Linked DNA regions of Homo sapiens. The protein of the gene in region 1 interacts with the protein of each later gene in a pairwise test. Each region holds a gene or a part of one and is shown in the gene's direction. Other genes may lie near its edges.

Evidence for each region.
Region 2: the proteins of TBC1D25 (region 1) and LARP1B interact in binary tests that used the Homo sapiens proteins (3 or more experiments, as listed by UniProt).
Region 3: the proteins of TBC1D25 (region 1) and FEZ2 interact in a two-hybrid assay, tested with the Homo sapiens proteins (one study listed by BioGRID).

What each region holds. Positions count from the first base shown.
Region 1 is NC_000023.11:48,552,876-48,563,109, forward strand, and holds the end of TBC1D25 (TBC1 domain family member 25), read left to right. Parts: intron 1-6,021; coding exon 6,022-6,149; intron 6,150-6,282; coding exon 6,283-6,471; intron 6,472-6,738; coding exon 6,739-8,100; 3' UTR 8,101-9,734; downstream 9,735-10,234. UniProt on the Homo sapiens protein: Acts as a GTPase-activating protein specific for RAB33B. Involved in the regulation of autophagosome maturation, the process in which autophagosomes fuse with endosomes and lysosomes.
Region 2 is NC_000004.12:128,055,609-128,066,334, forward strand, and holds the start of LARP1B (la-related protein 1B), read left to right. Parts: upstream 1-5,703; 5' UTR 5,704-5,793; exon of another isoform or gene 5,794-6,085; coding exon of another isoform or gene 6,086-6,611; intron 6,612-10,726.
Region 3 is NC_000002.12:36,578,867-36,589,704, reverse strand, and holds part of FEZ2 (fasciculation and elongation protein zeta-2), read left to right. Parts: intron 1-6,235; coding exon 6,236-6,352; intron 6,353-8,273; coding exon 8,274-8,415; intron 8,416-10,838. UniProt on the Homo sapiens protein: Involved in axonal outgrowth and fasciculation.

The sequences.
Region 1 (10,234 bases):
TCTTCCCAGGTTCAAGCAATTCTCCTGCCTCAGCCTCTTGAGTAGCTGGGGTAACAGAAGCGCACCACCACACCCGGCTAGTTTTTTTATATTTGGTAGAGATGGGGTTTCACCATGTTGGCCAGGCTGGTCTTGAACTCCTGACCTCAAGTGATTTGCCTGCCTCGGCTTCCCAAAGTGCTGGGATTACAGGCATGAGCCACCACACCCAGCCAATTTTTTTTCTTTTTAAATTCCGGGTTATCATTCTGTTTTCTTACTAACACACTAAGTCACTTATGTTTCAGGAATCCTAATGTAACATATAATATTACAAACCCCCAATCATGTTATCGTTGTCATTTTAACTATAAATATTAAATATGTAATATATATAATATAATATATAATATATAAATATTACCATTTACCTTCCCCTTTGTCTCTCCCTATCTTAAGCCCTTCTAGTCATGCAGGAGTCATTTGCTCAGAGAACTTCTTTGTTCTCCTCCAAAAGTGCATGGGTTAGATGTACTCTAATGGCCAAAAATGTTTTTATTTGGCTGAATAGATCTGTACTGTCTTGGCTGGGTGTGGGGCCCTTGGATCTCAGGTCTTTCTTCTTAGTGCTCCATAGGTGCTGTGAGCTACTGTCTTATTGCCTCCAGGGTTGTGAAGCAGAAGTCTGTTGCTTGTCTGACCTTCTTTCCATTGTAAGCAGCCGTTTTTTGTCTCTGGAAGCTGCAAGAGTTTTTCTTTTTCTTTTTTTTTTTTTTTTTTTTTTGAGGCAGGATCTCTATTTCCCAGGCGGGAGTGCAGTGACGTGATCTCAGCTCACTGCAACCTCTGCTTCCCAGGTTCAAGCGATCCTCCCACCCACCTCAGCCTCCCGAGTGGCAGGGACTACAGGTGTGCGCCACCATGCCCAGCTAATTTTTATATTTTTGGGTAGAGACAGGGTTTTATCATGTTCAGCCCAGGCTGGTTTTGAACTCTCGGGCTCAAGCAATCCGCCCGCCTTGGCCTCCCAAAGTGCTGGGATTAGGCTGGGCATGGTGGCTCATGCCTGTAATCCCAGCACTTTGGGAGACCGAGGTAGGCGGATCACTTGAACTCAGGAGTTCGAGACCAGCCTGGCCAACATGGTGAAACCCCGTCTCTACTAAAAATACAAAAATTTGCCAGGTGTTGTGGCGCACACCTGTAGTCCTAGCTACTTGGGAGGCTGAGACAGGAGAATCGCTTGAACCCGGGAGGCGGAGGTTGCAGTGAGCCAAGATCACGCCACTGCGCTCCAGCCTGGGCAACAGAGCAAGACTCTGCCTCAAAAAAAAAAAATTGCTGGGATTACAGGCATGAGCCATTGCGCCCAGTCTAAGAGTTTTTCTTTATTCTTAGAATTTGGGCATTTCGGGCTGGGCGCAGTGGCTCACGCCTGTAATCCCAGCACTTTGGGAAGCTGAGGCAGGCGGATCACTTGAACTCAGGAGTTCAAGACCAGCCTGGCCAATGTGGCAAAACCCTGTCTTTACTAAAAATACAAAAATTAGCAAAAATTAGCCGGGCGTGGTGGTATGCCCCTGGAATCCCAGCTACTTGGGAGGCTGAGGCAGGAGAATGGCTTGAACCCAGGAGGCGGAGGTTGCAGTGAGCCGAGATCATACCATTGTGCTCCAGTCTGGGTGACAGAGCAAGACTCCATCTCAAAAAAAAAAAAAAAAAAAGGATAGGGTTGGTGGGGGGCCTGTTGTGTGTTGTTAGTTAATTAATCCTATCTAAGACTTGGTGAGCCATTCCTTCATCTCAGGGAAATTTTCTTTCATACTTGTTTAATTCTGACATCTCCACCTGATCCCTTTTCTCCCCCTGCATTTCCTATTATTTCCATATTTGGTCTCCTGGACTTGGCATCCAGGTCTCTCTACTTTTTCACTCAAATCATTGAACCTTAGCTCCATGCCTTGCAGTGGTTCTTCTGTTCAGACTTTCAGACCATTACTGATTTTTCATAATGTGACCTTCTTCATTTTACCTGTTAAGTGTTTTAATGCTCTGATTAATGTTTTAGAAAGACCATTCTGGCAGCTGTTGGGAGAGATTGGAGAGGAATACAGAGGAAGTGAGGACTGGTTAGGAGGCAGTTTCAGGTGAGAGATATGGTGGCTCAGACAGGGTGAGAAGATGGAGATGAGAGAACAGGTAGGATGGAGGAATGCTTTACATGCAGTAGCCGTAGGACTTGGCGGTGGTTTGGACCTGGGAGTTAAGAGAGTGGGAGGGGGACAAGGATGTCTCTCAGGTTTCTGGTCTATTAAACAACTGAACAGATAGAGATGCTGTTTGTTGAGATGAGGAGTAGAGGAGGAGGCCATGTCTAGAGTGGATCTTGGGCTCCTCTCTTTGGACCCCTTAGGTTTGCAGTACCCCATGAGACATCCAGGGAAAAGCAGTGACATGCAAACATGGCCTAGGGTTTGTTCCCCCCCTCAGCTCTATGGGAAAATTGGGCTCCATGGGAATGCTGTTTAGGGATGGCATTTGCTTGCAAATGACAGTGGCTTAAACAGATAGAAGTTGATTGGTTTCACACAAAAGAGTTTGAAAGTTAGCCACTTGGGCCGGATGCAGTGGCTCACGCCTGTAATCCCAGCACTTTGGGAGGCCAAGGTGAAGGGGGCCTGCCCCTCCACACTTGTGGGTATTTCTCGTTAGGTGGAGACGAGAGATTGAGAAAAGAAATAAGACACAGAGACAAAGTATAGAGAAAGAACAGTGGGCCCAGGGTACCGGCACACTCAGCATGCGAGGACCTGCACCAGCGCCGGTCTCTGAGTTCCCTCAGTATTTATTGATCACTATTTTTACTATCTTGGCAAGGGGAGTGTGGCAGGGCAACAGAGTGTTGGTGGGGAGAAGGTCAGTAGGGAAACATGTGAGCAAAGGAATCTGTATCATGAATAAGTTCAAGGAAAGGTACTGTGCCTGGATGTGCATGTAGGCTAGATTTATGTTTCACTTTACACAAATATCTCAGTGTAGCAAAGAGTAACAGAGCAGTATTGCTGCCAGCATATCTCGCCTCCAGCCACGGGGCAATTTTCTCCTATCTCAGAATAGAACGAATGGTCGGCTTTACACCGAGACATTCCATTCCCAGGGACAAGCAGGAGACAGAAGCCTTCCTCTTATCTCAACTGCAAAGAGGACTCCCTCTTTCACTACTCCTCCTCAGCATAGACCCTTTATGCGTGTCGGGCTGGGGGATGTAAGGTCTTTCCTTTCCCACGAGGCCATATATCAGGCTGTCTCAGTGAGGGGAAACTTTGGACAATACCCAGGCTTTCTTGGGCAGAGTTCCCTGTGGCTTTCCACAGTGCATTTTGTCCCTGGTTAATAGAGAATGGAGAATGGCGATGACTTTTACCAAGCATACTGCCTGCAAACATATTGTTAACAAGGCACATCCTGCATAGCCCTAAATCCATTAAACCTTGATTCAATACAGCACGTTTCTGTGAGCACATGGTTGGGGCTAAAGTTACATACAGATTAACAGCATCTCAAACCAGAACAATTTTTCTTAGTACAGATCAAAATGGAGTTTCTTACATCTTCCTTTTCTGCATAGACACAGTAACAATCTGATCTCTCTTTCTTTTCCCCACATAAGGCGGGTGGATCACCTGAGGTCAGGAGTTGGAGACCAGCCTGGCAAACCCCATCTCTACTAAAAATACAAAAAATTAGCCAGGCGTGGTGGCAGGCACCTGTAATCCCAGCTACTCGGGAGGCTGTGGCAGGAGAATTGGTTGAACCTGGGAGGCAGAGGTTGCAGTGAGCGAGGATCACACCATTGCACGCCAGTGTGGGTGACAGAACAAGACTCCGTCTCAAAAAAAAAAAAAAAAAAAAAAGCCAGCCACTGGACATTGCCATTGTTGGCTTAGTAGCCCTCTCGTATCAGGGCTGTAGGAGAGGATCTCTGAAGATCCTCTCGAACCTACTCTCAGATGGCCACTGCTGCTTCAACCACCACATCTTATGTGAGGTGGGAAGAAAGAATGCGGGGCAAAATGAAAAAGAAAGAGAAACGGTCAGGTGCAGTGGCTCACACCTGTAATCCCAACACTTTGGGAGGCCAAGGCAGGAGGATCTCTTGAGCCCAGGAGTTCAAGACCATAGGCAATATAGTAAGATCCCATCTCTACCAAAAAAAAAAAAAATCATCCACGCATGGTGGCACACGCCTGTAAGCCCCAGCTACTCAGGAGGTTGAGGCAAGAGGATCGTTTGAGCCCAGGAGTTTGAGGCTGCAGTGAGCTATGATCGCACCACTGCACTCCAGCCTTGGGGGACAGAGCAAGACTGTCTCAAAAAAAGAAAAAAAAGATGCCTGTAATCCTAGCACTTTGGGAGGCCAAGGCGGGCTGATCACCTGAGGTCAGGAGTTCGAGACCGGCCTGGGCAACATAGCGAAACCTCATCTCTACTAAAAATACAAAAATTAGGCCAGGTGTGGTGGCTCATGCCTGTAATCCCAGTACCTTGGGAGGCCGAGGCAGGTGGATCACCTGAGGTCGGGAGTTCGAGACCAGCCTGACCAACATGGAGACACCCCGTCTCTACTAAAAATATAAAATTCACCAGGCATGGTGGTACATGCTTGTACTCCCAGCTACTCGGGAGGCTGAGGCAGGAGAATCACTTGAACCCAGGAGGTGGATGTTGCAGTGAGCCGAGATCCCGTCATTGTACTCCAGCCTGGGCAACAAGAGTGAAACTCCGCCTCAAAAAAAAAAAAAAAATTAGCTGGACCTGGTGGCAGGCACCTGTAATCCCAGCTACTTGGGAGGCTTAGGCAGGAGAACTGCTTGAACCCAAAAGGTGGAGTTTGTAGTGAGCCAAGATTGCACCACTGCACTCCAGCCTGGGCGACAGAGTGAGACTCCATCTCAAAAAAAAAAGAAAAAAGAGGCTGGGTGCAGTGGCTCACGCCTATAATCCCAGCACTTTGGGTAGGCCAAGGCGAGTGGATCACGTGAGGTCAGGAGTTCAAGACCAGCCTGACCAACATGGTGAAACTCCGTCTCTACTAAAAATACAAAAATTAGCTGGGCATGGTGGCAGGCACCTGTAATCCCAGCTACTCGGGAGGCTGAGGCAGGAGAATCACTTGAAACCAGGAGGCAGAGTTTGCAGTGAGCTACGTTCACACCACTGCATTCCACCCTCGGTTACAGAGTGAGACTCCGTCTCCAAAAAAAAAAAAAAAAAAGCATATACGGCATACCTGTTCCACTTTTGCACAAATATTTTATTTCTAAAGTATGTCTGGGCTCTGGACTAGGGTGAATGAAGTTCAGATCCCAGCCCTACTATTTCCTGGCTGTAGAATCTTGGTCACTTACTATTTGTTCCAAACCTTTTTGTCATCGTCTGTAAAATGAGAATGGTAATATTAGCGTGCACTGTTTGTGGGAGGAGGACTGGCAAAAATATGAGAGTAGGAGTTTGGGCTCTTGAGCTTGGGCCTGGCCTTCAAATTTCCACTCTTTCACTCACTAGCTAAGGGGCCTTGGGCAAGTACCTTATCATGACTGTGCCTGTTTCCTCAAAGAGAGTCATGGTAGTAGTAGTACTCAACCGATAGGACTGAAGTGACTATTGCATGAGTCAGTATTGGCAAAGAATTCAGAATAGTTCCTGGCATACAGCACTGTGGAAGCATTAGCTAGTATTATTATTTCTTATATTGCTGTTGAGCGCTTGTCCTAGTGCTTGGCACATAGTAACTGCTCAATAAATATTACTTTATATCATTAAAATATTAGAGGCTGCCCAGCCAGTTCCTGAGACATCTACTACAAAAGAATTGTTCATGGTTTGATTTTGTTTTTTACATGATTTGGATGATACAGGAAGAGGGACTGGGAGTTGTTTGTTCCCCTGCAGGTAGCCCGGCTTCAGTAGAAGGAGAGGAAGCCGGCCCTGAGGTCTGGGTTATCATCCCCATTCTTATAGCACTTTGTTCTGTTTGCCCAGGCCCATTGCTAGAAGACTGGGACATAATCAGCCCCAAAGATGTCATTGGCTCCGACGTGTTGCTGGCTGAGAAACGGTCATCACTGACGACTGCCGCCCTGCCCTTTACACAGTCCATCCTCACTCAGGTGTTTTCAGGGACCCTAGGGACCCAGCTGTGGTTGGAGGGCAGAGCCTTCCTGGCACCCTGGTTCTGAGCATGCTGGTTGGCATCTGCCCCTAGTCCACACAGCTGATGGTGGCCTCCCTCCCTCCTCATAGGTGGGCCGTACCTTGTCTAAGGTCCAACAAGTGCTGAGCTGGTCGTATGGGGAAGATGTCAAGCCCTTCAAGCCACCCCTGAGCGATGCTGAGTTTCACACGTACCTGAACCACGAGGGCCAGCTCTCCCGACCCGAGGAGTTGCGCCTGCGGATCTATCATGGCGGTGTGGAGCCCTCGCTGCGAAAGGTGAGCATCCTCAGTCATCTGTTGGGTCCATCACTGCTGCACTCATTAACAGCTCCTGAGACACATGCAGTCAGCCACACTGCTGTGGGCAAGGGTGGAGATGTTACAGGGCACGAAGTTCTCTTTAAGGAGGGGCGAGCAGTCGGAGGCCTAGCAGACTTAGAAGGAAGACAGAGGCCCAAGGGGGGTGGGTGGGTGGCAACTGATAGACATTGGGGTATGGTTTATCTGGAGAACTCCAGCCTCATCCCTTTCACCCCTGGGCAGGTGGTGTGGCGGTACCTGCTGAACGTGTATCCAGATGGACTGACAGGCCGAGAGCGGATGGACTACATGAAACGCAAGAGCCGCGAGTATGAGCAGCTCAAGAGCGAGTGGGCCCAGCGAGCGAACCCTGAGGACCTGGAATTCATCCGCAGCACGGTCCTCAAGGATGTACTGCGCACTGACCGGGCCCACCCCTACTATGCGGGGCCTGAGGATGGCCCACATCTACGGGCGCTGCACGACCTGCTCACCACCTATGCCGTTACCCACCCACAGGTGTCCTACTGCCAGGGCATGAGTGACCTTGCCTCACCCATCCTCGCTGTCATGGACCATGAGGGCCATGCCTTTGTTTGCTTTTGTGGCATCATGAAACGCCTGGCCGCCAACTTCCACCCTGACGGCCGCGCCATGGCCACCAAGTTTGCACACTTGAAGCTGTTGCTGCGACACGCTGACCCTGACTTTTATCAATACCTGCAAGAGGCAGGCGCTGATGACCTCTTCTTCTGTTACCGCTGGCTGCTGCTGGAACTCAAGCGTGAGTTCGCCTTCGACGATGCCCTCCGCATGCTTGAGGTCACTTGGAGTTCGCTGCCCCCTGATCCTCCTGAACATGAGGTAGAGCTGGTTGGACCCCCCAGCCAAGTGGCAGACGCTGGTTTTGGTGGCCACAGGGGGTGGCCCGTGCGACAGAGGCACATGCTGAGGCCTGCTGGTGGAGGAGGTAGTACCTTTGAAGATGCTGTTGACCACCTGGCCACAGCCAGTCAGGGGCCTGGTGGTGGGGGGCGTCTCCTGAGACAGGCCAGCTTGGATGGCCTCCAGCAACTCAGGGATAACATGGGCTCCAGGAGGGACCCTCTGGTCCAGCTGCCCCACCCAGCTGCCCTTATCAGCTCCAAGTCCCTCTCTGAGCCTTTATTGAACTCCCCAGACCCACTGCTCTCCTCCTTTTCCCACCCTGATTCCCCATCTTCCTCATCTCCACCATCCACCCAGGAGGCCTCTCCCACTGGTGATATGGCTGTAGGATCCCCCTTGATGCAAGAGGTAGGCTCCCCGAAAGACCCTGGAAAGTCCCTGCCACCTGTACCACCAATGGGCCTGCCCCCACCCCAGGAGTTTGGCCGGGGGAACCCATTCATGCTGTTCCTCTGCCTGGCCATCCTGCTGGAGCACCGCGACCACATCATGCGCAATGGGCTGGATTATAATGAGCTGGCCATGCACTTTGACCGCCTTGTGCGAAAACACCACCTGGGGCGCGTCCTGCGCCGGGCTAGGGCTCTCTTTGCTGATTACCTGCAGTCAGAGGTGTGGGACTCAGAGGAGGGGGCTGAGGCCACAGCCGCATCTTGATCAGGCTTTCTCAAGCCCTCCATCGGCCCCACCAGATCTCCATTCTTTGCCATGAGGGCCAACACATGAGACCCCACCTCCCTCCCTGCCTGCCAGCCCTAGACTTGTTGGAGCATAGAGCCCTTCCTCCCCAGGCCTAAGTATGTGGAGCTCTGCTTTGGCACTGCCCCGCAGAGGCCACGCCTATTTATTCTGTTTCTGTTGTTTTGTTTTTAACAACTATACTTTGCACACATGAAGGTCACTGTGGTTTGTGTGTTTCTCTGCCTCCTCCCTGGGTTTTGCTGTAGATGGAGTCCTCAGGGGCCCTTTACCTGATGGAGGGGAAATACTTCACTTGGTGGAGAGAGGCTCCAGCTTCCCCCTTGTGATGGGGAGAGTGGATGCTGACAATCAGTTCCCAAAGGTGAGCCCAGGTGGAGCACTGCTTGAGGAAGGCCTGAGTCTGTTTTTTTGGTACATCCATCGGCCTGTAAGGGTCTGTATTATGGCTGTGAATATATGTTTTCAGGACAGCCCCCTGGATGAGAGATAAGAGAGTTCCTGGCTCAAAAAAGGACAAGATTCTTTACTGAGATTGGGAAGTATGGGCTACTTAGAAACGTTGGAGCAGCCACCCCTGGCATTCCACATGTCACCATTTCTAGGATCTTGGCCTCTCTGTGAGGTTTATGCACCAATGCTGGCAGCCCTGGGCAGGGGCCTCGGCCTCCTTTTTGTTTTCCACTTCAGACAGGTACCGTGCAGATGTTAACAAGGTTTGAGCGAGGTGCATCTCACACAAGTGTGAAAGCCCAATCATCACATTGTTGAATTACAAAAGGATCTAGGGCTCCTATTCTTGTCACTTGCTTTGGAGCCAGTTTGAAAGACTGGCCTAGCCCATGCCTAGCGGCCCTAAACTGGGATTCCAGCTCACAGCACCTGTCTTAACCATTTCAGCAGTAGAAACCACTTATTTACCTTCTCCATCTCACTAATATGGACAAACAACAAGCACTGATAAAACGCAGGCCCTAATAGAATTCACTTCGTTATTTGGAGGATAATGATCAAAAAAAGGTCCTTTTTCCCACTGACATGCTCAGAGGGTGGGATTCTCTCACAGGCCAGGTGCTGTCATCCACAAAGGATGGGTGAAATAACTGGGGTCCTCAGGTCACGGTCTAGCCACACCAGCTTCTCCCAAGTACTAACCAGGCTTGACCCTGCTTAGCTTCAGAGGTCAGACAAGATCTGGCATGTTCAGGATGGTATGGCTGTAGACCAGGCTGGGTTCTGGCCAGAGCTGTTGCACTAGGCAATGCTGCCAGAGATGAGGAGGCATCAGGGCAGTCATCCCTTCTGCTGTTTGCCCCAAGAATGCCATACAAACCTGGGGATGACCCTTAAAAGTCTCCCGTCACCCCCAGTATTGGGGGGAAGCTGACTATTCCTCAGATGATAGCCCAGTCACTTGAAGAACAGGACAAGACTATTCTGTGTCTAGGGGGCTCAAGCACTGTGTGTGGGTCTAACGAATGCATTTTGTGGAAATGGGCTCAGACTCCCCAAAGGGCCATCCAACCTATGGGAGTGTCTGGCCTTCTGAGGTCCTGAAATGTCTCTTTTGTCAGTAAACAGCTAATACCCTCTGGGATGCATTCTGTGATTTATGAGCTCAGGTGTTTGAAGGACCAGACAAGCCAATTCTGTGGATAGTAGTTTGGGACCTCTGAGAGATAGAAGAGTCCTTTCTGTGAATAGGAGGCTCAGATACCCTGAAAGGCAGAAACCTCTAATATTCCTCTAGGATACTTGGGGTTTCTGGTTCCTGCAAAGATGGCAGACAGCACAAGCTACTGATTCCTTTGCCCGAAACCAACTCTGGAGAAACTAGAGAGGGAAACATGGGTTCCAGAAATTGCAACATAGCAATGAGAGACCCATGGGGAAATGGAAGGCTGTCTTTAACTGGTGTGTGTTTTGACGGGCGGATGGCCAGAGGCAGTAAATAGAGGATAGGTTAGGGAAAAAGATATTTAAGTTCTGGCTCTCACCTCTCCCCTATATTGCCTTGGGGAGGTCCTTGTTTGCCCCCTTCATTGCATTAATCATCCAAACCACTGGTACACATGTCTGGGGGACTAGGATC
Region 2 (10,726 bases), on another chromosome or scaffold:
TAGATTCTTTACAGATGCAAATATCCCCCCCTACAAAGGACAGCTTTACAGGGCCATTTCAAAATATGGCAAAGGAAAGAAAAAAAAAATAGGCCGCTCGCAGTGGCTCAAGCCTGTAATTCCAGCACTTTGGGAAGCCCAGGCGGGCAGATCACCTGAGATCACTGAGATTGAAGCCAGCCTGGCCAACATGGTGAAACACCAACTCAACTAAAAATACAAAAAACTATCCAGGCGTGGTGTCGTGCACTTGTAATCCCAAGTACTCAGGAGGCTGAGGGAAAATAATCGCCTGAACTCGGGAGGCAGAGGTTGCATTGAGCTGAAATCGTGCCACTGCACTCCAGCCTGGGTGACAGGGTGAGACTCCATCTCAAAAATAAATAAATAAATAAATAAATAAATAAATAAATAAAATAAAACAAAATATGGCAAAGAAACATGTTTTGGGGTAAAATATTTTGACTTTCTTCTTTGTTATGCCAGAGTCACACTAGAAAGTAAGTCACAATATATAGGGTTAAATAAAACCCATCTGATGAGAATTTATGGTTTGTAGGGCATGACTCCCCAGACCCCTCAGATAGGAATTTGGGCAAGATGAAAAAAATGAGAGCTTAGTCCTCACTGGCCATATATATATATATATATATATATTTTTTTTTTTTGTAGAGACCGGGTTTCATCATGTTGCCCAGGCTAGTCTCAAACTCCTGGGTTCAGTCTCCTGGGCTCAATCAATCCACCAACATTGGCCTCCCAAAGTGCTGGGATTACAGGCTTGAGCTACTGTGCCCAGCCTATGATTTTCATATAAACATATGAAGCATTTTGATTCTCTCAGATTTTACACTCAGAATACACTATCTACAGTTAATTCTGAACTTTTTCTCCTACTTAATTATATTATAAGAATACTAAGAAGATGAGCTGAGATAGGGTCTTGCTATGTTGCCCAGTCTGGTCTCAAACTCCTAAGCTCAAGTGATTCTCCTGCCTCAGCCTCTCAAGTAGCTGGGACTACAGGCAGCTGCCACTGTGCCCAGCTTTAGGCAGAAATTTAGAACTTGATCTCTTTATTTCATTTCTCATATCCATTAGATTAGCAATTCCTGTTAATGAGATCATTCCCAAAATGTATCTCAAATCATTCCATTGTCCTATGCACTGCCACCTCTTAAGTCCAGACCATCATCATATCATTCTTGGAATACTACAACAACTTCATGTTTTTCACATTTTGCATTTTGTCACTGCCCATTCCACTTCATTTTCCGTATTACAGCAACAGGGGTATTAACTCTTACATCTTTTCAGTGTTTTTCCATTGCTCTGATAGAATTCAAATTCTGTCATAATCCAGAAGCCCCTGCAGGCTCTGCCTTAGGCTATCTCTCTAACCTCATCTTTACTCATGCTTTGTTTTTTTTTTTGTTTTGTTTTTTTGTTTGTTTGTTTTGAGACAGTCTTGCTTTTTCACCTAGGCTGGAGTGCAGTGGGGTGATCTTGGCTCACTGCAACCTCCGCCTCATGGGTTCAAGCAATTCTCCTGCCTCAGCATTCCCAGTAGCTGGGATTACAGGCACCACCACCACACCCGGCTAATTTTTGTATTTTTAGTAGAGACGGGGTTTCACCATGTTGGCCAGGCTGGTCTCAAACTCCTGACCTCAAGTGATCCGCCCGCCTTGGTCTCCCAAAGCACTGGGATTACAGGCTTGAGCCACCACGCCTGGCTGTTTTCTTTTTCTTTTTCTTTTTTTTTTTTTTTTTGAGACAGGGTCTCGCTTGAACCCGGGAGGCGGAGGTTGCAGTGAGCTGAGACGGCGTCACTGCACTACGGTCTGGGCGATGCAGCGAGACTGTCTCAAAAAAAAAAAAAATTAAATTAAATTAAAAAGTTAAATGGAACTGAATAGATCATGTAAGAATGTCTTCATAGCCCAGCGCAGTGGCTCACGCTGTAATCCCAGCACTTTGGGAGGCCGAGGCGGATGGATCACCTGAGGTCATGAGTTCGAAACCAGCCTGGCCAAAATGGTGAAACCCCCATCTCTACTAAAAATACAAAAATTAGCTGGGCGTGGTGGCGGGCGCCTGTAGTCCCAGGTACTCAGGAGGCTGAGGCAGGAGAATGGCGTGAACCCGGGAGGCGGAGCTTGAAGTGAGCTGAGTTCGGGCCACTGCACTCCAGCCTGGGTGACAGAGCAAGACAGAGGCGGTGGCTCTCACCTGTAATCCCAGCACCTTGGGAGGCTGAGGCTGGCAGGTCACCTGAGGTCAGGAGTTCAAGACCAGGCTGGTAAACATGGTGAAACCCCGTCTCTATTAAAAACACAAAAATTAGGGACAGGCGCGGTGGCTCACGCCTGTAATCCCAGCACTTTGGGAGGCTGAGGAGGGTGGATCACTTGAGGTGAGGAGTTCAAGACCAGCCTGGTCAATATGGTGAAACCCTGTCTCTACTAAAAATACAAAAAATTAGCTGGGCATGGTGGTGCATGCCTGTAGTCCCAGCTACTAGGGAGGCTGAGGCAGGAGAATTGCTTGAACCTGGGAGGTGGAGCTTGCAGTGAGCTAAGATCCTGCCACCGCACTCCAGCCTGGGCAACAGAGTGAGACTACATCTCAAAAAAAGAAAAATTAGTCAGGCATGGTGGCACATGCCAGGAGAATCGCTTGAACCCAGGAGGAAGAGGCTGTAGTGAGCCAAAATCGTACCACTGCACTCCAGCCTAGGCAACAGAGTGAGGCAACAGAAAGAGGCCTCTTTCAACAGGCCAGGCGCGGTGGCTCACGCCTGTAATTCCAGCACTTTGGGAGGCCAAGCGGGGGCAGATCACCTGAGCTCAGGAGGTCGACACCAGCCTGGGCAACAAGGTGAAACTCCGTCTCTACTGAAAATACAAAAACTTAGCTGGGCATGGCAGCGCATGCCTGTAGTCCCAGCTACTCGGGAGGCTGAGGCAGGAGAATCTCTTGAACCTGGGAGGCAGAGGTTGCAGTTAGCCGAAATCATGCCACTGCACTCTAGCCTGGACTCCAGCTCAAAAAAAAAAAAAAAAAAACCAACAAAGAAACAAAAAAAGAAAGATATTTATGGCTGGGTGTGTGGCTCACGCCTGTAATCCCAGCACTTTGGGAGGCCGAGGTGAGTGGATCACTTGAGGTCAGGAGTTTGAGAGCAGCCTGGCCAAGATGGTGAAAACCCCTTCTCTACTAAAAATTCAAAAATTAGCTGGGTGTGGTGGCAGGCACCTGTAATCGCAGCACGACACCACACCCAGCTAAATTTTTGTATTTTTAGTAGAGACGGGGTTTCACTGTGTTGGCCAGGCTAGTCTGGAACTCCTGACCTCGTGATCCGCCAGCCTTGGCCTCCCAAAGTGCTGGGATTACAGGCGTGAGCCACCTCGCCTGGCTGATGGCAGTGTTTTGAACCAAATAATTTGTTCTTCCAGACCAGGTGAACACCCTACCCAAGGGCAGATAATCCACAGATTGGCTAATGAATTGTATAATCTGGCTGGAAAAAATAAGTAGGGTCAAGCAGTCTTTTATCCTTAATTTTGAACTATGAAGCAGAGGAAGAGTCTGGCACGTAGCTGCAGAGGCAGAATGAAGTAACAAGATAGAGGTTAATTACAGCAAATTGGGTCAGTCAGATGAAACTAAAATCAGACGGAACGCTCAAATTTTGGAATTTTAAGTTTATTATTAAAAGGACACTTTACAGAGGTGTGAGGCTAGGCGTGGTGGCTCACGCCTGTAATCCCAGCACTTTGAGAGGCCAAGGTGGGGGGATGACTTGAGGCCAGGAGTTCGAGACCAGCCTGGCCAACATGGTGAAACACCGTCTCTACCAAAAATACAAAAATTAGCCGGGTGTGGTGGTGGGCGCCTGTAATCTCAGCTACTCGGGAGGCTGAGGCATGAGAATCGCTTGAACCCGGGAGGCAGAGGTTGCAGTGAGCCGCGATCGCGCCACTGCACTCTAGCTTGGGCGACAGAGAGAGACTACCTCTTAAAAAAAAAAAAATGCCGGGCGCGGTGGCTCATGCCTGTAATCCCAGCACTTTGGGAAGCCGAGGCGGGTGGATCATTTGAGGTCAGGAGTTCAAGACCAGCCTGGCCAACCTGATGAAACCCCGTCTCTACTAAAAATACAAAAATTAGCCGGGTGGTAGTGGCGCGCCTGTAATCCCAGCTACTCAGGAAGCTAAGGCAGGAGCATCTCTTGAGCCTGGGAGGCAGAGGTTGCAGTTAGCCGAGATCACGCCACTGTACTCCAGCCTGGGCAATAGAGTGAGACTCTGTCTCAAACCACCACCACCACCACCATCACCACCACCAATAAAAAATACAAAGCGCCACTAATAACAGAGCTAGTAAAGATGGATGGGAATATAGGTGGAAGTACAATCCCCTTTTAATTGCAACAAGGTTCGCCAGGTTGCTTAGGGTTGGGCAAACTGGAGATCACTGACACGGAAAACAAGAAAACCCTTATTGTTTATAGCTGTTATGTATGAATAGGTTATTAGCCTTAGGAAAATTATTTGTGCCGAATACGGCTTTTGAGTAAGCAAAAAATATTAACGTCAAGTTGAATGTAATTGAAGCGACTTATTGGGCGTGGGGTGGGGGGTGGGGGTTGAAAGCCCAAACATAAGGCGAGCACAGATAATTTATTTAACAAGGCTATGGGGTTGGTGGGGGGCTCGGAAAAAAATCAGCGGCGGAACCTGCTCTCAGCCACCTTGCACCAGGACACAAACACTGACTCAAAAATGAAACGAGTATCATCTCTAAGTGAATGTGAGTGCCAAGTAGAAAGCTCGTATCCGATTTATTATCAAAACGTCTTTGTACCATTTTAACATCCATTCCAGGAAGAAAAAACCTATTGGGAATATGGTTAATTTGTAATTAAGTGCTATTTACCCAAATTAAAGAAACAGGTAACAAAAAATTTTAAAAGCCGGCGAAATACTATTTAATTTACTCAGGAACGCTTTAGAACTCTTTTAGTTGGTGGGTGGGAATGCGGGCGGGGAAGCGCACTAAGCCGAACGCTGGGGCAAAGGTTTCCTAAACAGTTACCGAGAGGTAACTCCCCCTTCATCTGGGACGTGGCTCAAGATTACAGGTGATCGCGGTGCCCCGAGGCGCCAGGAGGCAACTTTCACCTGGGGGAGGCGCCGGGCGCCAGCGGGCCAAGCGGCCGGGCCGCGGAGCCCACTTCACTTGGGAGCTGCCCCAGGCCGGGGGTCGACACCGCGTCCCCTCCCTTAGCCTAGCTGCGACCCAGCTTTAGGGCCTAAGGGCAAATCGAGCGCTCGGTCCTCCCAGCGCCATGTGCGCGGCCCGCCCAGGCCCTTGGCCGCCGTCGCCGCGGGGGCAGGCCGCGAGCCAGCCGCGAGCCACAGAGGCCTGGTGCGCGCTCCGCCCCTGAGCCTGCAGTCGGGGCGGCCTCAGCCAGTGAGCCGGGAGTCGTCCCCTTCGTCCTCCCTCGCACTCGGAGGGCAGCTGGGGCGGGGCAGACCCTCGGGCCGGGCGGCACCCGGGCGGGCGAATCCGTCAGCTCCCGCGGGAGGCCCGGCGAGAGAAGGACCCGGTGAGTAGCCACGTCACGCTCCTCAGGGAGGCCCCGCCCCGTGCTCTCGGGCCGCCCCTCTTCGCCGTCTCCACGCCTCCGCGGGCAGTTACCAGCTTTGGCTGCTCGCGCCTCCCCAACTCGGGTAAAGCTCCTCGGCCTCGGCGTGCTGCGCCTCCGCGGCTGCCCTGCGCCAGGTGAGGGCTCGCGGCTCCCGGCTGCGGCTCCCGGCGCGTGGTGGCGGGCTCGGGGCGTGCGTCGCGGAGAGGACGGGGCCGGCGGGCGGTTGGCGCTCCGTTCGGTGCGGGGAGGGGCGTCACGCCGGGCGCTGCGCGGCCTCGGCGGGCGGCGGCAGCGGCGGCCACGGCCGCCGGGCTCTCGGGTTGTCTGTCCCCAGTTGGAGCCGGCCGGTGTCCCGGCGGAGAGACGGGCAGTCGGGTTCCCTGGCCTCGGGGCCACCCCGGCTGGGGCGGCTGGGGCAGAGGGACGATGTCTACTCGCGCCCCGATGCCCGCCGCCCATTCTCGGGAGGATCCGCCCGCGGTGACTGCTGAGAGGGAGTCGCTGTTGGCCGCGGCGAACCGGCCGGCCGAGCAGCCGCCCCCGCCCGAATGTGAGGGCAAAGAGGCGGCGAGGGAGGAGAGGGCCGCGGCCGCCACTAGCGCTGGGGCGCGGGGAGAGCCGTCGCCGGCGCTGGTGCTGGGACGCAGCGTGCCCCAGGCGGCTGTCCCCGTGAGGCCCCTGGCGCTGCACCTGGCGCACAAGGCGCGTGGGCCCGGGGGCCCTTTCGGCGGGGAGCCGCCACCGCCACCGCCGCCGCCGTCGCCGTTGCCGCCGTTGCTGCGGGATCCGCCGGCCGAGGACGCCCGGGAAGAGGTGGCAGCTGGCCCTGCGGAAAAGCGGCAGCCGCCGCTGCTGCCGCCTAAGGGAAATCCCTGGACCAAAAAGCCTCCCCAGCACCTGTCCCCAGACACGACAGGTCCGCCACCGCCCCCGCTGGAAACCCTGGAGGCAGGTCTGTGGTTGCTCTGCGTTGGGCACTGGCAGGGTGCGGGCAGGGGCGACTTGCGGGACTTGCCGGCGCGTGGCGGCGGTAGCGGGCACCAGGCCCGGGTAACGGCAGGCCTCCCCTCCCTGTCAGTCGGAGGTAATTTGTTCCAAGGTGTCATTCACTCTGCCTATTTACAGACATGGGCATCTGGGAAGGGAGCGGCAGGAAGAGGTGGGACCTCAGGTTCTCCTTGCCTGATGGGGGCACGGAGGTGGTAGCTTGGCGGCGCATCCCTGCTGGCGCGGTTGCGATTGTGTTTTGTCCCCAGTGTTAGTGACTTGGGAAAGTAGCTAACTTTAGATACTGCAGTGCTTCGTATGGGAAAGTTTTGGTAGACTTTTTTTTTTTTTTTTTTACATAAAAGGATTGAAGCAAGTCAGAGCAAGGGGATTTATTCGTAAGTGGAAGCGCGATTGTAGTCTTTTGTGAAATAAGATGAAAAAAGGTTTTCAAAACACTGCTGAGCAGTCATATTAAAAATGAGACTTTAAATGTGGTTTTTAAAGTGCTTTATGGGGGGAGGGGGGAGGGATAGCATTAGGAGATATACCTAATGTTAAATGACGAGTTGATGGGTGCAGCACACCAACATGGCTGCACATGTATACATGTGTAACCTGCACGTTGTGCACATGTACCCTAAAACTTTAAGTATAATTAAAAAAAATAAAGTGCTTTAAGTTATAAGTGTGCTGGAAAATAATTGAAATAGGATAGTTGACATGCGAGCGTGGATTGCACGTTAGGTAAATGGTTTTCTAACATTGTCAGCTCTCCTTCCCTTTAGAGGAGATAAGATTATGCCACTATATTTGAATGCTGACCAATGCTGTATGGCCGTCGGTGCTTTATTTTGATTGTAGTAACTGCAACTTAAGAAAGTAAAAATGGGCCGGCGCGGTGGCTCACGCCTGTAATCCCAGCACTTTGGGAGGCCGAGGCGGGCGGATCACCTGAGGTGAGGAGTTCGAGACCAGGCTGGCCAATATGGCGAAACCCCGTCTCTACTAGAAATACGATCATTAGCCAGGCGTGGTGGCGGGCGCCTGTAATCTCACCTACTTGAGAGGCTGAGGCAGGGAGAATCGCTTGAACCCGGGAGGTGGAGGTTGCAGTGAGCCGAGATCGCGCCACTGCACTCCAGCCTGGTCGGCAGAGTGAGACCCACTCTCAAAAAAAAAAAAAAAAAAAAAAAAAAAAAAGTTAAAATGGAAATAAAAACCATGACAAAAAGCAGTATCTGGCCGGGCGCGGTGGCTCACGCCTGTAATCCCAGCACTTTGGGAGGCCGAGGCAGGTGGATCACCTGAGGTCAGGAGTTCAAGACCATCCTGACTAACATGGAGAAACCTTGTCTGTACTATAAATACAAAATTAACCTGGCGTGGTGGCGCATGCCTGTAATCCCGGCTACTGGGGAGGCTGAGGCAGGAGAATCGCTTGAACCCGGGAGGCAGAGGTTGCAGTGAGCCGAGATCGCGCCACTGCACTCCAGCCTGGGCAACAGGAGCGAAACTCCGTCTCAAAAAAAAACACAAAAAAACAAAACCGTATCTTTCTAAATTAAGTTGTAAATGACTTGAACTTTTTATATGCAAATGACAGCTGTTTACTTGCAAGTCTTCATTTTTATTTAAAATTAAAGGTTAGCAGCAGAACAAGAAATATTTGAGCGTGTTTACTGGCTTGTGAGGATCAAATGCGATGAAGAGGTGGTATAAATGTAAGGCGATTGGCTGTGCGCGGTGGCACACGCCTGTAATCCCAGCACTTTGGGAGGCCGAGGCGGGTGGATCACCTGAGGTCAGGAGTTCGAGATCAGCCTGGCCAACATGGCGAAACCCCGTCTCTACTAAAAATACAAAAATTAGCCGGATATGGTGGTGCGTGCCTGTAATACCAGCTACTCAGGAGGTTGAGGCAGGAGAATCGCTTGAACCCGGGAGACGGAGGTTGCAGTGAGCCAAGACTGAGCCACTGTATTCCAGCCTGGGTGACAGAGCAAGACTCAGTCTCAAAAAAAAAAAAAAAAAAAGTACGGTGATTGTTACAAGCACCCATTATGTTATGTTAACATTTCTTCAGAGGAACTCTCCAAAGAGGGAGATATGTGTTGAGTTAATTCATTCATTTGCCTTTGCACAGAAATACTCCTCATTAATTGTTGATAAATTTTGACACTTGCAGAAAAAAAGTTTGCTCTGGATTTAATATTGGCATAATTCCTTCCTCGCTATAAAGAGCTGTTTGTTTACTCCTATTACTAACTAAAGAGAACATGGTTAAGTGAAGACCTCATAAAGTTTTTCTTTTTTTTCTTTTTTAAAGCCCAGTGGCAAGCACTCTAAAATTTAGCAAAGAAAGAAAACCCTAGTGAATCATCTTATTTGCTGTTTCACCTCTCTACTTCTAGACTTACAGACAATTAAGTGAATTACCAAGTAGGAACTCTTTGTTGATCATAAAACCAGTATCATAGATTTTAAAACTTCGAAGCCATACATGGTAGTGTGTGCCTGTAGTTTTAGCTCCCTGGGAGGCTGAGGCAGGAAAAATCAGTTTTGCCCAGGAGTTTGAGGCTGTAGTGTCCTGTCATAGTGCCTGTGAATAGCCACTGCATTCTAGCCTGGGCAATATAGCAAGACCACGTTTAAAATAATAATATTAATAATAATAATAATGATAATAGAACTTTAAAAACTGTCAAGGTAAGCCTTGGGAACTTTAATTGCAAATGACCTGTGAAAAATATTTAACAGTTAAGCTATTGGTGCCTTCATTCTCCAGTCTTCACTGGAGATTAAGAACACTGTGATACTAGTTGTATGGTATGGTTCATGGAAATTTCAGTTTTGCTGTTGTCTTGTGTAGGCAACTCTTTCTGTCTTTGGATGGAATCCATTCTGCACTGGCAGGAAGACCATCTTTCAGACCTGGCATAGTGTAGTAACCATGGTCTCTTCCCAACACTGACTCTGCACTGTTCTCCCACAATTAATTTCTTTCTTTCTTTCTTTCTTTCTTTCTTTCTTTCTTTCTTTCTTTCTTTCTTTCTTTCTTTCTCTCTCTCTCTCTCTTTCCTTTCTTTTCTTTTCTTTTCTTTTCTTTTCTTTTCTTTTCTTTTCTTTCTTTTTTCAAGAGATGGAGTCTCTCTGTGTTTCCCAGGCTGGTCTTGAACTGCTGGCCTCAGGCGATCCTCCTGCTTCCCAAAGTGCAGGGATTACAGACATAATCAGGCTTTCTATTTTCTTAAGCAAATTTACAACTTCAGGAGTAAAGAAACAGGACCACAGTCTATTTGCAGTTAAATAACTTAGGTAACTTAGATAAAAGAGATTGTGGTGTAGAAACATACTGTTTTGAGAGACTTGGGTTCTAGTGCAGGTATTGTTACTAACTGGCTAGTTGACTTCTGGCAAGATTTCTGGGCATTATAAATGAATAACATGGATAGACTCATTTCCTCTGGTTCATAATACCAGAGTGCCACTTATAACCTGGCTGCCTTGGCTTCCATTTATATATTTATTTAATATTATTTAATTCATTTAAATAAATACATTTTACATTAGTTTATTTAAATAGGTAGATAGATTGTCAGTCTTGCTCTATTGCAGTGGTGAGATCATAGCTCACTGCAGCCTTGACCTCCTGGACTCAAGCAATTCCCCTGCCTTGGCATCCCAAGTAGTTGGGATGACAGGCACGCATGTCATTCCATGGAATTAGCCATGCCCGGCTAGTTATTTTTAATTTTTTTTTGTAGAGACAGGGGCCCCCTTTGTTGTCCAGGCTGGTCTTGAGCTCTTGGGGTCAAGCTATCCTGCCTCAGCCCCCACAAAGTGCTGGGACTACAGGTGTAAGCCACCCTGCCTGGCGGCTTTCTATTGTCTATTTTCTTTCTTTCTTCTTTTTTTTTTTTTTTTTTTTTGTTATATTGAGACAGAGTCTCGCTCTGTCGCCCAGGCTGGAGTGCAGTGGTGCAATCTCTGCTCACTGCAAGCTCCGCCTCCCGGGTTCACACTGTTCTCCTGCCTCAACCTCCTGAGTAGCTGGGACTACAGGCGCCTGCCACCATG
Region 3 (10,838 bases), on another chromosome or scaffold:
TTCCTGACTGTGCCAGTCATTAATCCCATTAAGCTTTGCAGACTGACCTGGCATATATTTAATGAAAAGGAATAAAATGAGGGATCTTTTGCTCTGTCTTGTTTACTTAGGTCCTGGCTATCATTTTGGGCTTAGTTCAAGTTTCCCTTCCTCTCTGAAGCTTCCTATTACTGTTTTAGCCTTTGCTGATCTCATGGAATTATACAATTTTAGAGTTGGAAGGGGCTTTAAAGGACACTTAATCCAGCCTCTCACTTGGGGGGAATCCTCACCTCCAGCATCTCTGACAGATGGTCATTTAGCCATGGCCTAAATTCCTGCACGGAAGGAAAACACACTCCCCTCTAGGGGAACTGATGGCACTTGTGGGGTTGTGAACTTTGAAAGGACTTGTTATCTGTGCCACGGGGTTTAGCCTTGCTGTCTCATGGGTGCTAGTCCCCAGATCACTTTGTCCCTGTCTCTAAAATTACCACTGCCTTCTCTTGTTAATCATATGTTTCTGGGTCTGTCACTAGATTGTGACTTCCCGGCAGGTATTTGTATTTGTCTTTATAGTAACTATACTGTTCCTGGCACATAGTAAGTTTGAAGATACCTTTTTATTGAGTGAATAAGTGAATAGCCTTGTCAGTGAAACTGTAGGGCCAGAGATCGTGATAGAAAGGTTTTAAAAAAATATTTTCTATGTTATTTAAAATAATGCAGAATGCACCAAAACCAGTCCATGGGTACTACTTTTTTGACATATTAAAAAATAGCATAGAAGAGTTTCCATTCATAGTTTCAAAGTCAGGCCCATTAGCAGCGTGAGTGAGACAGTTTAATCCAATTTCATTGACTAAATGTACAGCGGGCCCACCATATTCTCTGGTTTCACATCTGCTGCTTTAGCCAACTGTGGATTAAAAAACTTGAAAAAAAAACCCCACAATAAAATAACAACACAACAATTGAAAATAATGAAAATAAAAAACCGAAAACCGATACAATATAACTTTATAATATAAATATTGTATAGTTATATACAATATAACTATAAACCATTTACCTTGTATTAGGTATTATAAGTAATTTACATATAATTTAAAGCTTATAGGGGGATGTGCACAGGTTATATGCAAATACTACCCCACTTTATATAAGGGACTTGAGCATCTGCAGATTTTGCTATTGGGGTGTCCTGGAACAAATTTCCCTTGGATACCGAGGGACTGCTGTATGTCTTGTATTGTTCTTAGATTGCATCTTGGGAGGTTGCTCCCTTTTGCTGCCTTTTGAATGTTATTTTCAATGCCACGGTAATGATATGGCCAAGGCAGTGATTAGTAATGACGTAGAGTTTAATGCTAGTACTGACATTAAAAAGCCTTACCTGGCTGGGCGCGGTGGCTCATGCCTGTAATCCCAGCACTTTGGGAGGCTGAGGTGGATGGATCACCTAAGGTCAGGAGTTTGAGACCAGCCTTACCAACACGGTGAAACCCCGTCTCTACTAAAAATACAAAATTAGCCAGGCGTGGTGGCGCATGCCTGTAATCCCAGATACTTGGGAGGCTGAGGCAGGAGAATTGCTTGAACCTGGGAGGCAGAGGTTGCAGTGCGCCGAGATCACGCCACTGCACTCCAGCCTGGGTGACAGAGCGAGACTCTGTCTCAAAAAATAAAAAAAAAAACAGCCTTACCTGGAAAAACTCAGCAGATGAAAGTGAACACGTGATCATTCACCTATCATCTCTCTGTTGTGACATGACTATTCTGGTGATGAATAGAATTGAAATCAGAACTCTGTTTCTCAGGGAGGATTAGCACACACTGAGTTTCTGAAAAACAAATGGGCAATAAGGACTATGTAAGAAGTCATCACGTCATTCTATTACATGGTATATAATTAAGCATTTTTTTTTTAATCTGGCAAAGTGACTGTATTTACCATTGCCACCTGGTGCTCTGTTCGTGCCGTGACTAAGCTATGTAAAATTTACCCTTTGAAAGCATTCTTTAGATTATTTTACTTATAAAACCAAGTGTATAGAAATTTTTTTTGACAAAAGAAGAATGGTTTTTGCATTAAAAAGAGAAAAACATTCAGGAAAACTAGTTTGCTAGATTGCAGTTTTAAATTTTTCTTTGATTGAAGATTAAGATGGCACACTTCTAAATTTGATATGTCTTTTTTAGAGTAAGGCAACTGGTATCTTTCAAATTCTTACGTGGGCACATTTTTTCCATTTGATGTATCTTCAGTTTTATACAGGGAAACAGTACCACCAGGTCTGTATCTAACCCTGGCATTGGAAGGAGTGATGGGAATGCTTGGCAAAGAGAAGGCACATTTAATGCTGAAGGGAGGAGTGAATAATGATACCCATGACAGCCAGGGCTAGTTTGCAAAGCCTGAAAGATATTCCAGCTCTTAGCATATGCCATCTCTGTGGGGAATGGACTTGGCTCTCTCTCTGGAAAGATGATCTGGGATCATTTCTGTTGTCATGGAAATTTATTATAATAGTTTACTGTTATTACTCATGTGTTTTGGCCATAACCCTATTCTAAATCTGGTGCCATTCTTGAATATACTTATATGATAGAATGCTTATCATTCATTTCAGCTTAAGAACATCTTCTGTGCTGTATTTCTCCTTCCATGTGCATTTCTTTCAGGACAGGGACTTTTGTATGCATCTTTATACCTTTAAGAGTAGAAATAAGAAAAAGATAATGTCTTCCACAGAAGCAATTTGATTGATTGATAGATTGAGAGAGTGTCTCCCTCTGTTGCCCAGGCTGGAGTACAGTGGCGCCATCATAGCTTACTGCAGCCTCCAACTCCTGGGCTTAAGCGATCTTCCCGCTCCAGCTTCCTGAGTAGCTAGACTACACACGAGTACCGCCATGCCTGGCTAATTTTAAGAAAATATATTTCTGTAGAGACGAGGTCTTCCTGTGTTGCTCAGGGTGGTCTTGATGTCCTGACCTCAGGAGATCCTCCCACCTTGGCCTCCCAAAGTGTTGGGATTACAGGTGTGAGCCATGGCAACCTGGGCTTCCTTAGGAGTAATTTTTTTTTTTTTTTTTGAGACATGGTCTGGCTCTGTTGTCCAGGCTGGAGCGCAGTGGCACCATCTTGGCTCACTGCAACCTCCACCTCCTGGGCTCAAGTGATCCTCCCACCTCAGCCTCCTGAATAGCTGGGACTACAGGCATGTGCCATCATGCCTGGCTAATTTTTTGTAGCAATGGGGTTTCACCATGTTTCCCAGGCTGTTCTCAAACTCCTGAGCTCAAGCAATCCACCCGCCTCAGCCTCCCAAAGTGCTGGGATTACAGGCATGAGCCACTGTGCCCACCCCGGATTAATTTTAAAATTAAAACTTTTAGTATTTATAAGCCAGAAGGGGAAAAATAAAACAAAATCATGGTCCTCAAGTTGCAACATAGGAAGAGTGATTGGGAAGGGGGTGTGAAGTGTTCGAAGTGTAAGGATCGATGAAACTAATCGGTAGGTCTACTCCATGGTATCGACATGCCTTTGTGATCACAGTGTGCCACATTTTCATCTTCTACAGTATAGAAATCATACATCCCCTCTCATCAAGAGCCTAGTCTCTTGATCTTTCTCCTTCTTTAAAAAATTAAATTATTAAAGGAACAGCTGTCATAGTTTAAAAAGTAAATTAGAACTATAGGACTTAAATGAAAAGGCAGTCTCTGCTCCACTTGATTTCTCCTTACCAGAGGTGGCCACTTTAAATGATATCAGCTATTTCTTTTAGCAGATAACATGCTCATGCCATTTTACTTGATATTATTTTCTCAATTTTAGACTTTATTTATTTTCTACCCAGAGGGTGAAGGTTTAGCTCTCTTCTGTCCTTTGCCAATCCCTGACACTATACCCTCCCAAAAACTTCCCTTTCCCCATCTTCCCAATGTAATTACATAACATCTGGGGTTGAATTAATCTTCATCATTTATATTTACTATTTAAATGTGCACAGTTGACCCATTATGATATATTATGTTTACATTTTCTCTTTTTCTACTTAGGTTTTTTCTTAGGATACTACCTGCCTTTTTGTGGTTTATTTAGTTTATAATTAGCTGACCAGTTCAGCCTCAATAGAGCCGTAGAACTCATTTTAGTAAATGGACCGCACTAGGTAATCTATCTAGTCCTTCTGCTCTCCCTCCCCACCCACCTCTCCCTCTTCTCCATGCTCTCTGCAATAAAAATTCTAATCTGAATGTTACTCTCTAGTGTAGCTTTACAGTCATCATTCTGGGATTTTCACTTTACTATCATTACGAGAATTCTCTTTGTCACTTGTTATTAGACCACATATCTTTTTTCTTTTTCATTTTCCTCCTGGTAGCTTTTTGAGAAAGGGCACATGAGAGGTAAATTTTTTCAGAACTTGTATGTCTGAAAATGTCTTTATCCTAGCCCCTGCCTACTTGTTTTAGCTGGATATAGGATTCTAGGATGGAATTTCTCCAAACATGGAAGTTACATCGATTATTTTCTAGCATCTATTGTTGCTATTGAGAATTCACTTGACATTTTGATTCCTGATCCTTTTAATGTGATTTTTTTTTCCCTCCCTGGAAGCTTTTAGATTCTCCTTTTTTCCACACAGTGTTCTTAGTTCATGATGCTGTGTTGAAGGTCATGGCCAGGCCTTTGCTAGGCTGATGGTGCAGTAAGAAATAAAATGAGAAGGGCTGTCGTCACTGCGCAGGAGCCTGGAGTTGCATTATAGGGTTGTAGGTGGACCGTGCAGTGTTGATGGGGCCCTTCTCCCAGCCTAATGTTGGAAAGTCAGTGTGCCAGTGCTTCTTCCCTTGGCCCTTCTCACGTGCAGGTTTCTTACTCTGTAGGCTGTGTTCACCTGCAAACTTCAGATGCTCATGTTATGAAGAACTAGGGAAGCAGTAGGAACCTACATCCATTCCATTGTGTCCTCAGCTTTAGACATATATCCTCTGCATGGATAAATAATTTTGCCAGGTAAAATTTTATCATGTTAGTTCTACACTATGTAATAGAATGACATGGTGGCTTCTTACGTAATCCTTGTTGCCCATTTATTCTTTGGAAACTCAGTGTGTGCTAATCCTTCCTGAGGAATAGAGTTCTAGTTTCAGTTCCATTCAACACCTGAATAGTCATGTCATGACAGATAGGTAGATGATAGACAGATGTTCCCTTGTTCATTTTAATCTGCTGAGTTTTTTCAGGCAAAGTTTTTACAATCAGTACTGGTACTAAACTCTAAGGCTGTTTATATTGGTGTGGGCAGGGTTAAGGGAAACAAACTTGATGTGGTGCAATCCCCCAGGGCTGGCAACAGAAACTGGTACTTTAGCAGTCCTGGGCATGAAGAGGTAAGGAGAGGGAGAAATTACCATAAACTGTTGAGATTGGCCTTGTGGGAGAAGTCTGCTAATCAGAGCTATGGCTTTGGTGAAGAGCCATAGTCAACAAATGACAGTCTGACAGGGAGGAAGACAGCAAAATACATGCCCAGCCTTCACCATCCCACCTTCCAGTCTGCCAGTGTCTGCCAATGGGGTTTAACCCACCTGGAAGCCAGACAGCAAGGGCATCCTTTGATGTCTTCCATAAAGGTCGTCCTCCTGGAGCGCAGAGCAGGGTGGAAGATGGTGAGGAGGTGAGTGGTGAATCACCAGCTTAGTTAGGTTTAAAGATGTTTTTGGAACCTAGGGTTATTATTTTTTGTTAAGAAGGAATGTGCAATTGGAAGGGCTAAGTGTGACGCTCATGGACAGATCCCGCCTTTCAGGGAGTTGATCATCTTTTACTCAGATATTAGAAGTTAGTTTGCAAGTAACTAACTTTTATGTTTTCTTTAGAATGTTAACGTCTACCAATCTTAGTGTGTGTTGCTAACCCTGCCCATATTCTCCCTTCTATTCACTGTAATTCCCTATGACTTGCTAATGAATACCGTATTTTTTTCTGCATATCTGTCAGCTTTTATAGCAGTCTTATGCAGCATCTCAGTGATTTCATATTTATTCTACATTCTTCTCATTTCTGTTCAAGATGAATATATACTCATTGCCTGGTACAGAGTGATTGTAATAATTTCTCCCTCTTGAGGGAAGGCTCTTAGTAGTTGCTTTTCTCTGCAGCCTCTTTTACTCAGAGCTGTTAACTTTGTTTTGATGAGGATGTCCTGCTTTTAATGATGGGTATTTTTGTTTTTAGGTAAGTGACAGTTTGCTCTTTGATACATCAGATGATGAAGAGCTGAGAGAACAGCTGGATATGCACTCAATCATCGTCTCCTGTGTTAATGATGAACCCCTCTTCACGGCAGACCAGGTATAGAGGAGATCCTCAGCAACGCAAGGAAAGGAGACTCTAGAGCTGAAAAACGGCTTCTTGTTATGACAGTAAATGATGGCTGTTGGTTTACTTATCTTTCCTATTTTTTTCTGGTTATACAGGCTTAATAGTTAACTCTTCCACAGAGAAAAATAAGTATTTGTGATCTGAAGCAGAAGGGATTATGTTAGTTGGGAAGGTTTCCAACAGAGGCCTTGTTGAAGATTATAGCAAGGTACCAAGGAAAGGTTGTTGCTTAACCCCAAACCAGAAAAATATTGTGAATTTCCTTGTTTCTTTAGATTTACCCAAACACGGACAAACTGTAAAGTATCTGTGTAGAAATTATTTAGTATCTTCAAAACCCTGGGTAAAAAGCATTAGCATGTATTAAAGTAACATATTGTGTGCCCCAGAAAGAAGTGAGCATTATTCCCGTGGAATGCGCTAATAAGGTCAACCCTGTATTCACTTAAAACCAGTCGAATCAGCTTTCTCATTTTCTGAATACTCTTCCCACCTCTGTTGTATTGTTGAAATGTGATGCCAGAACTTCTTCCTGAAATAAAATGTTCCATGGCTACTCGGACTGTGAGTTCTACCACACTCTATTTTTAGGCTGGAAAGATGAGATCAGTAAGGAGATACATTATGGCAAGCTTGGGAGGAGTACATTAAAAATTTACATTAAAATTGTGTTATTTGGATCCTCCTTAGTCATATTTGTGGTTGAATTGTTCTAGGCGTGGGAAGAATGTGGTGCTTAAAAAAGCAAGGTAATAGTAGGTTGGAAGGTTGTTTTGAGGTAGAGGGTAATCTAGGGATAGACATGACCTTGAGAATTCATTGTCCCCTCACTGACCTGCCTAATACCGTAAACTCTCCCTTTTTTTAAGAGTTAGAATAACAGATTCTGTAGGATCCTTGAGTGGCTCATTGTACCTTATTATATTTCCTGTTTTGGAGACTCTTCTTATAATTAACATAATCCCATCTCCTTCAGATTTGCCTTTGTTTTTCCTTGGTGGAAATCTTACCTGTTAAGCTTGTTAATTCATAAAGCATGGAAATATGCTCATGATGTCTTACTCCTTCATTTAATTGTGTTTAATTTTTTTTTTTAACTTTAGGTCCTTTTTTCTAACTATTGAGTAATTTTCCTGGGTTTCCTTTACATTTTCGCTGAGTTCTATATCCTTCTCAACTTTTAGAATCTGGAAAAGGGCAAGATACTGTTGTAAGATTTGAGCAGCACTGCACTAGACAGTAGATCATTGTTTAAAGTCAAATGTATTTCTGAAGTTTTTCTGCTTTTCACAGCATTTTTCTCTTTGGACTTCTACTTTTTGAGTAATTTAAAAAATCCCTTTTTTTCGTTGAATTAATATATAAAATTATTTTTCTGCTGTTGAAAGAATATTTTGCTGTCATAGAGGTAATTTCCCATTTATATATACTTTTTTTGTGCTATTGTATTTTATAAATTTTATGTCAGAATTTTTGATGAGATACCTTTAAATTGAGCACTTGTATGTCTATGGTAAATTTTCTGTTATTTGCTTTCTTCTAACGATTACTGTATGATCTAGCTCTGGTGTGTCTGAAGTAAATTATTATGTGTTTGTAGCACGATTACCTAGACTTTGCAAGACATGTTAGGGCCTTCTGAATCATGATGGACGTAGTAAATCCAATTCTATTTAGGTTTGTGTTTAGTATATTGTAATTTTTTCTTGATAAACCATGTTCACTCCTACAGTAAAAATTTTGATTATTTGGAGCATCCACACCTGAACACCATTGGTTAATGGAGAATTCAGTGCATTTCTGCTCTGGGTGCCTTAGGTGAGCACTGTGTTCCAGATAGATCATTTTCCTTTTGTATATTTGATTAACAGTGGTGTGTGTGTTTTCGAAGGTTATTGAAGAAATTGAAGAAATGATGCAGGAATCACCGGACCCAGAAGATGATGAAACCCCTACACAGTCAGATCGGCTTTCAATGCTTTCCCAGGAAATTCAAACTCTCAAGAGGTCTAGTACCGGCAGTTATGAAGAGAGTAAGGGAGCCTGCTGAAATCAATGATTTCTGTGCTTTTTGTCTGTATCAAATGTATAGTATGATCATCTCCAGAAAGCTTTGATTTCATCCTCCTTCTGTTTGTGTTTGTGTCCAAATTTACATTTTTGTTGTTGTTGTTGAGACGGGATTTCACTTTTTGGCCCAAGCTGGAATGAAGTGGCATGATTTCAGCTCACTGCAACCTGTGCCTCCCGGGTTCAAGCAATTCTGCCTCAGCCTCCCAAGTAGCTAGGATTACAGGTGCCCGCCACCACGCCTGGCTAATTTTTACATTTTTAGTAGAGACGGGGTTTCGTCATGTTGGCCAGGCTGGTCTCGAACTCCTGACCTCATGATCCGCCCGCCTTAGCCTCCCAAAGTGCTGCAGTTACAGGCGTGAGCCACCATTGCCTGGCCCCAAATTTCCTCTTACAAGGACAGCAATCATATTGGATTAGGGTCTATCCTAATGACCTTATTTTAATGTAATTACCTCTTTAAAGACCATATACTGTAACATTCTGAGGTACTTGGGGTTAGGACTTCAACACATGAATTTTGGGGAGGACACAATTGAGTCTATAAGAAACCCCATCATATTTGAAGTGTAGAATAGATATTCAGTAATTATTTGTCAAATGCAATTCCTGTTTGTACAAATAGTCTTGTGTGTTACTATGAAGAATTTTGGGAACCATGGATCTGTTTGACATATGTGAGAATAATGAACTCTAGAAACTCTACAGTTGATTTTCATGAAAAATGTCTGAATAAATATAACCAGCCTGTGAACAGCCTGAGGCTGGTTGGAAGGTGTGTATCTAATCATTGCCATATGACTGGTCCCTTCCTTGAATAGGCACTGATGGGGTCTGTATCTGCTCAACTCGTGTTGTCACCTAGTTTTATCTTTATGGCATGCCCAGTCCAAAGCTTAGTTACCTAAAGACCTTTGGGTTGTATGGCTTCAACATACAGATGGTCAGACAGACCAAATTCTTTCAGATGGTCTGATTTGGCCATGTTCCTGTAGGTATGGGCTAAACAGTGTTAACGTCCTGACTCCCAAATACAGTCCTGATACCTGATACAGATACTAAAATCTGTATTGGTTTGCTAGGGCTGCCAGAACAAAGTACCACAGAGTGGGTGGCTTAAACAACAGGAATTTATATTCTATAGTTCTGGAGGCCAGAAGTCTGAGATGAAGGTGTTGGCAGGTTTGGTTTTTTTCAGAGGCCTCTCTCCTTGACATGCAGATGGCTGCCTTTTCCCTATGTCTTCACGTGGTCTTCCTACTGTGTCCTGATCACCCTATTTTATAAGAATACCAGTCATGTTGGGTTAGGGCCTATCCTGATGCCCTCATTTAACCTTAATTTACCTCTTTAAAGACCCCCTCTCCACATTCTGAGGCCCTGTGGGTTGGGACTTTAACAGTGTCCTATCTGTCACAAGGGGCAGAAGTGCTGAGAAAAGACTGAAATGGGGTTTCAGGGAATATTGTTCCCTTTTGTCTTCCCAGTTTTTTTAGTCCATTCTTGCACTGCTATAAAATGCCTGAAACTGGGTAATTTATACGAAAAGAGGTTTAATTGGCTAATGGTTCCACAGGCTATACAGGAAGCCTGGTAGCATCTGCTTCTGGGGGGGCCTCAGGGAGCTTTTACTCATGGTGGGAGGCAGAGCTGGAGCAGGTATCTTCACATGGCTGGAGCAGGAGGAAGGGGGCTGGGGGGAGTGCCACACACTTTTAAACAACCAGGTCTCATAAGAACTCTGTCATGAGAACAGCACCAGGGGGATGGTACTAAACTGTTAGAAATTGCCCTCATGATCCAGTGACCTCCCACCAAGCCCCACCTCCAGCATCACATTTCTGTATGAGATTTGGGTGGGGACACAGATACAAACCATATCACCAATTTCAACAAAATTCACAGATCAGGACTTATGTAATTAAGTGTATATTTAGTTTAATTCTTTCAGATCAACTCCTTTCCTGTTCAGAGATATCCCAGAACCCTGCTGAACGGCTTGCAGTTTTTTGTCAGCAGGTGGATTCTGTACTTTCCCTCGACTTTTGTGTTTGTTCTTTTCCGTGTACAAGCCTTCACAGTCTTGACTGAAGTATTATTCATGCAATGATTTATTTGCACAAGTAAAAACTTTTGTTAGACTTTCTTGCCAGCAAGCTGAGAAGTGACTCACCTGCCCACTTACCTCTACTCAGATCTGATCTCCAGAAGTTGTAGAATTCTGAGAAGATCACCCACAGTCAATTTAATTGCTTGGAATATGATTTTTGCTCTTTGGCATTGATTACATAGGTGTTTATTTAGTCATTCCTAGTGACTACTCTGTTTTGCTTCCTTGAAATGTTTTTGTCTTAATATCTGCTGTATTTTGCTTTTGGTCACA